Homo sapiens: one gene and its partner. The protein of the gene in region 1 purifies or fractionates together with the protein of each later gene. This does not show direct contact. Each region holds a gene or a part of one and is shown in the gene's direction. Other genes may lie near its edges.

Region 1 (3,500 bases):
CTCCATTTACCCTGATGTGATTAATATGCATTATATGCCTGTATCAAAATATCACATGTACTTTATATATACATACACCTACTGTGTGCCCACAAAAACTTAAAAAAAAAAAAAGAAATATCGTGACTGGATATTGCACTTAAGATCTTGGGAGTCCACTGCATGTGAATTTTGCTTCCATTTTTTAAATGATTCTTGAATATAGGGCAAATACTTAGGAAACCAGAAGCTATGAGATTGCGGATAATCACTTGAGTTCAGTATTACAAAATATGATTTTAATGACCCATTTTACAAATGTAAAAGTTAGTGTTCTGTCTCTGTAGAGTTGCTCATTCCCGATCAAGGTTCTGCAGGATACTTTGTGAACTATCTGGAGTTGACATGTACAACTTCAGGATGCCCTGTTTGATCAGTTGTAATTTTTGAGAAAAAAAGAGGTCAGAAAAACTGGTCTGAAGACTGGCTCATAGAAGCTCTAGAGCCTCTAGACTGTAGAAGAAACTTAGTTTTCTCATCTGAACTTATATTTGAAAAAGAGGTGATATATACCTTCAACAGTGTTTAGGCAGGTACGTACTACCAAATCTCATTGTCAAAACCAGGACAGTAACATTGAAATAACCACTTCGATGTGAAAGTAATTCTATAATTAACCCTGTTGTCTCTTCTTTTTTTTTCTTTTTCTTTTTTTTTTTTTTTGAGACAGTCTCGCCCTGTTGCCTAGGCTGGAGTGCAACGGCGCGATGTCGACTCACTGCAACCTCCGCCTTCCAAGTTCAAGCGATTCTCTTTCCTCAGCCTCCTAAGTAGCTGGGATTACAGGCACCTGCCACCACGCCCAGCTAATTTTTGTATTTTTAGTAGAGACAGAGTTTCACCATGTTGGCCAGGCTGGTCTCGAACTCCTAATCTTCATGATCTGCCCACCTCAGCCTCCCAAAGTGTTGGGATTACAGGCGTGAGCCACCACACCCGGCCAGTGAACCCTGTTGTCTCTTAAGACACACAAGATCATGCCCTGTGAATACAGAGTGGAGGGGAGTGGTCAGGACATGAGGGTGAAGCCCATCCTGGACTGAGACCACCTAGAATCAAATTCCAGCTCTGCCAACTAAATCCTGTGCATTTCTGGGAGGCATTAGTGTACCCTGCCAAAATGTGGCTGTGATCTGGTGTAACATACCATCACCTCCAGCAACACCATATGGCAGACTACACCAGGATCTCCTCCTATGCCACTCTTATTTTTATTCTCTTAGGGTGATCTCTCCTGTTTTCATTATCCTGCACCCTGCACATTACACAAGTGTGCACACACAGTGGTAATCACACACATTTCTTCCATCTTTTTTCTCTGTGGTTTTCTCCCTTGTTTGACACTCCATTGCCAAATAATGAATAGCTATTTTGCTATCCAAAAGGAGCAGTTCAGTGCCAACATGTTTTCAAGCACCTGCCCTTCTGCAGGAAACTCGTCTTTCGTCTTTATTTCCTCTTTGTTGGAAGTAAATTTGCCCTCTTATTTGCTGACATTTTCAAACTTGTACCACTTCTTTCTCGCTATGGTAGATGACTGGAGGTAAACCTACTGCTCTTCTTTTTCTTTTTTTATGTAGAGTATAATTTATAATACTTTTGGTATTCCATTTTTATATATAAATTTAAATTTGAAACTTTTGATAAGTTTTAATTTTCAAATGACTAGTTTTTAGCAAATAAGTTGAAGTTTTATTATAATGGATTTGATTCTTCTTTTCCAATAGTAGCTTACTTATTTCGTTTTTAACAAATAATTTCTGTGTCTTTCTAAGATCATACTTACTTTTTGTTCATCTTTGTACAAGTTGATAGGAGTCAAATTCTACAGGCATGCCAGTATCCACTCCCTGTAATCTTCTGCAAAGTAGGTTTTTAAAAAGTTGGCAGTAGCACATCAAAACATTGTCTTTATGTTTCACTCATATTTTTCTTTAATTCTTGTGATTTACTAAAAGCTCACTGAACAGTTCTGTTTACTATATATTATAGTATACCATTCACCATTGTAATGCCAAAAACAGAATTTTGTGTGTCATTACAGCTATAATAGAAAGGAGCACTGAGAAGCCTGTGTCCTGGTCGTCCTTCCCGTTTTATGAATCAGAGAGGAACAAGACTATGTCAGAAAATTGTTGCATTGTGTTACTTTCATTGTAAATATCACAAAGTCATGTAAAGTTACTGGGATTCGATGATACATAAAAGTGGGGGGCAGTTAGTTCTATCTCTACACAGACTTTGATAGATGGACCCTCATCTACTGCTTGCTTTGACTGTGGCTAAAGTTTATGTTGGACTGAGACATTTGGGATTTGGAAATAAAGTTAAAGACTTCTCATACCAGTCACTTATAAGTTCTAGTAAGTAACTTGGGGGTGGCCGTGGGAACATGGGGTTAGGCAGTGGTAACAAAGAAATAAGCCCTATTCTCATGGAGCTTACTTTGGGAGTGGTGATACTCAACAGACTGTAATTTGAAGTAGAAGCAATTAACTTTGTCGATAGGTTCTTGGAGATACAACTTTAAACAAAATGAGTATATTGCAGCCTCTTTTTTCATCAATGTTATAATGAAACCATGTTGAAAGCAGTGGCATTATTTGAGGACCTGCTGTCTGTCGTTTCACTTAAAGTTAGTTTTAAAGAATGTATTGACCACATTAAGTGAGGATCTACTGTAATCTAGGGATGGCCCCTGGAGAAGGAAGGTAGCATTTAGGTTGAAGTTTGTGGGGATGGGGATAGGTAGGATTTGGAAAGAGAGAGGGGCAGAGAGTGCGCAGGGGAGCACTTAGGATGGAGGAAGTGGGAATATGCACAGAGATGAATGGTGGAGAGCAATCTGGTTTGACTTAAGATGTTACTTACATACGTGTGTAAAGTAGTAGGTTAATGGGCTTAACTTGAGAGGATATTTTGGGACCAGATTATAGGCAACTAAAGTTTTTTATATTTTTAGATAGTAAGAAACCATGAAAGTGTTTTGAGACAGAATGTTGAGAAACATGATGAAAATTGTGATTTGGGCAATTAATCTGGCCTTTGTGTAGAGATTGATTGGAGAACAGACACCATTAGCAACATGTTTTAGTAGTTTGGGTGCTATGCCAAAAACAACTGGAACAGTAAATGGAAAGAGTGGGACCAATTCAAGGTAAATGGGGTGGCCAAACATTTTGATGATTAGAGACTATCCTGATTTAGGTTTGAAGCATGGTTATTATTAGTGCCCATTTTTGCTTTTAAAAGTTTTCTGCTTTGGACAATAAATCATATGGTGACCCTAAAGATAGATTGCTGTAGCATTGATAGCACTTGCTAATTAGATTGAAAGGAGACAGGGATGGTGGTGTAAGAGAGCAGAATATACGGTTTTTTAGAAGTTATTATTTCACTGAGTTTTCATATTTTGAAGAATTAAGCATAAAATTTCCTTACCTAAATTCTGTAATCAAATC
Region 2 (3,500 bases), on another chromosome or scaffold:
AGTATAATAAAGTAGAAAATCACTGGCTTCTGTATTTTATAAGGTGAAAATAGGGGACATGGAGCACTATTATACAAATGCCAAACTAAGAAACAGGTTAATGTACATAATGGTGTTAAGTATTTACATATATGGTCCTATTTGTAATTTTTATACAAATAAAATATGACTTAAAACCCAATTTGAACTCATTTGGGGTATTATAATTTATTTATTCAGCTGAATTAATAGCTCCCCCCAAAGCCCAATGTGTTCCATAAAGTTTTTACAAATGAACTAATGGAAATTTGTATGTTTATATATTGTGTGTTTGTATATTGATGACCCATATAATGAAGTATTTGGGATAAAATTCAAGTAAATATTTGAAGTTTTCTCTATAAATGCTCCCTTAATTTCTTTTTAACTGACAAAAATCCACAGTTATAGCTTATAGATTCCTAAGTGTATCAACTGGCAGCACTTTACCAACTATTCAAATTAAATCTTATTTTAATAATTTTTAATAAAAGATTAATAAATGAAGCACAACCGAATTGATGCACATTTGTACCAGTTGAATATTTTTAACTGTCTTCAATTTACAGAACATATGAAAGTAATAAGACATTTGTCTTCTATAGGTTACTAAAGATTAGTCTTACCCTTCATGAGGTCTCATAAAACTTAATTCAGAATTCTTAAATGAGCAGTTTTTCATTGTTTTAGGAGAAATAACATCAGAAGAACTGCAACAGCGGTTAGATGGCGTCAAGGAACAACTAGCATCTCAGCCTGACTTGAGAGATGGAACGAATTACAGAGGTACTATGGAGTCCTTTCCATAAGGAACAGGCTTGATTGGAGCACTTGCAGAAATGAAATTCTTAGACCTTGTATAGTATGTTTGTCTTCAATTTTTTCCAGTTTTAATGTGATACTCATTCAGATAATATATATATGAGTAGTAAAGCAGTATGGTTAAGCAGTATAGGACAGAGGAATGAATGCAAAGATGTCTTAAACACACAGATTGCCTTCAGAGAGCTTTATGTAATAATATACAATTAAGTTAATTCCCAGCATGCTTCTTTTTAATCTTGGAATGTACACATTACTTTTTCTAAAGTGATATTACTTAGCTTCTAAAAATTTATATACAGAACCGTGTAGAAAGACTGAGTTAGGAAACCTGTTTTTGTTTCTTTGTTCTGTTTGATGGTTTACATATAAAAAGTTCTTATAAGGAAAGTACTATAAAAGAACTTCAAACTAAATGAAGTATGTAGAGTTAAAAGGAAAAGCCACTTTTGTGTTCCTCTTAACCAGTTCTACTTCCCTCCTCAGAGGTATTTATTAGTAGTTTCACATATTATATCAAAATCATTGTATTAGTTACCATGAAGTCTATGTAAAAACCCCAAAATGCAATGGCTCAATAAGCTAGAAGTTTCTTACTTACGTTAACAGTCCAGGGAAGGAAATCCTCTTGGAACCCACTCAGCTAACAGAATGATTCTACAACTGTGCTGTTCAGTACAGTAGCTGCTAGCCACATGTGACTATTTAAATGGAAATTAATTAAAATCAAATTAAATTTAAAATTTAGCTCATTCATACTAGCCACATTCAGGTGCTTAATAGTCACATTTGGCTAGTGGCTTCTGTATTGGACAGCACAAATACAGAACATACTCATTACTTCAGAAAGATTTATGGGGCATCACTGCTCCAGGGTACCATTTGTATGATCAAGGTAAGTCGCAACCATATCTAGGTTCTAGCTGGTAGGAAGGAGGTCCACGCACTAGCGTGAGAGTAGGATGTATCGCTTACTCTCCCATTCCATTCATGAGAACTTAGTCTCATGGTCACACCTAACTGCCAGGCTGTCCACGAGCCAATTTCCGATGCTTTTACAATGGAAGAAGAGTAGGGTAGCTTTGAGTAGGTACTTGGCAAACTCTTTCACATGCACCATCATCACTACACTTAATCAAATGTTAATCAAAGAAGGAAGTAGCATTTAAAATAATTCATGTTCACCTGCCTTTTACTCATTCTTTTTCCAAACAAATGGGAAGTGGACATTAACACATTTTATTATTTGTGTTTAGATATGTAAGTTGTACTATATAGATGCAATAATTAATACTGATCTTTTGAATATGTTTCAGTGGAAAATGTACTCATCAAATATAAAATAGCTCATCATCTCTGGAATATGGCTCAGTTGCTGTTTATTTTATTGGCATCAACAGCTGATTAATAGCTTCAACTTCAGCATTTAAAAAAGTCTTACGAGAGAGATTGCAGGAATGAAATGAAATCAGAATGATGTCATATAATAGCTATTTTATTTATTTGTTTATTTATTTTTTGAGACAGAGTCCTGTTCTGTCACCCAGGCTGTAGTACAGTGGCACAATCTTGGCTCACTGCAACCTCTGCCTCCCGGGTTCAAGCAATTCTCCTGCCTCAGCCTCCTGAGTAGCTGGGATTACAGGCGCACGCCACCATGCCTGGCTAATTTCTTTGTATTTTTAGGAGAGACAGGTTTTTACCATGTCAGTCAGGCTGGTCTCGAACTCCTGACTTCATGATCTGCCTGCCTTGGCCTCCCAAAGTGCTGGGATTACAGGTGTGAGCCACCGCGCCCGGCCTATAATAGCTATTTTTGAGTAGAACAAACTTTAAAGTTGAAGTTTGTGTAGTTAATGTGTTGATGCTTTTTATTAAGTTTTGTACTTTATATAATATCTACTGGTTATAAATGGAAAATTTAAGCTTGGCACAGTGGCAGTATCTTAGTCAAAAAAGTTTATGGGTGACACATTTCTAAATTGATTAATTGAGCAATATTAATTGAAAGTCTGATTTATACTAGATACTGCTGTAGAGGCTGGAGATGTAACAGTGACTAAAACTACAAAAATCTTTGTTTTCCTGGAGCTTACGTTCTAAATGAATAGAAAATGTATTTTATTATGTATAACAGCTAACATTTATGGGGTGGCTTTTTATGTGCCAGATATTATGCTAATTATGTTATATATAGCGTCTTATTTTATCCTCAGGATAACCCTATGAGATTGATTCTATTATTAACTCCAGTTTATAGACAAGGATCAGCCATAGAGACCTTAAGTAACTTGCCTGGTTTCTCAGCTTCACACAAAGACAAATACAGTAATGTGGTTTTAATGTTATATTCAGAAACTCACATTTCTTGATGTGTACATTTTTGGCAGCACCTGAGAAATAGGAAAAATTTCTAAGATTACAGAAATACCTAGTTGCAAAAATGACTGAGTTGGCTTTTCCAGAAAGATTCCACAAATACAGGACAAATTTTACATAAAGTTTGTCTTTGTATTTTATTGATATTACTATATTGATAAAGCAATTTAAATGTAAACTTTTGGTAGTGGACATGTTTCTCATTTGCCTTAGTATTTTGCTAGTAATGGGCAGATAGAAAGTAAGAATGAGGATTTCTCCATAGCGTTGCATAAATAGTA

The links. Proteins that work in one complex are often made in the same cells at the same time.
Region 2: the proteins of QKI (region 1) and RNF6 purify together in Homo sapiens (affinity purification with western blotting; one study listed by BioGRID). This does not show direct contact.

What each region holds. Positions count from the first base shown.
Region 1 is NC_000006.12:163,557,718-163,561,217, forward strand, and holds part of QKI (KH domain-containing RNA-binding protein QKI), read left to right. Parts: intron 1-3,500. UniProt on the Homo sapiens protein: RNA reader protein, which recognizes and binds specific RNAs, thereby regulating RNA metabolic processes, such as pre-mRNA splicing, circular RNA (circRNA) formation, mRNA export, mRNA stability and/or translation.
Region 2 is NC_000013.11:26,215,815-26,219,314, reverse strand, and holds part of RNF6 (E3 ubiquitin-protein ligase RNF6), read left to right. Parts: intron 1-708; coding exon 709-804; intron 805-3,500. UniProt on the Homo sapiens protein: E3 ubiquitin-protein ligase mediating 'Lys-48'-linked polyubiquitination of LIMK1 and its subsequent targeting to the proteasome for degradation. Negatively regulates axonal outgrowth through regulation of the LIMK1 turnover.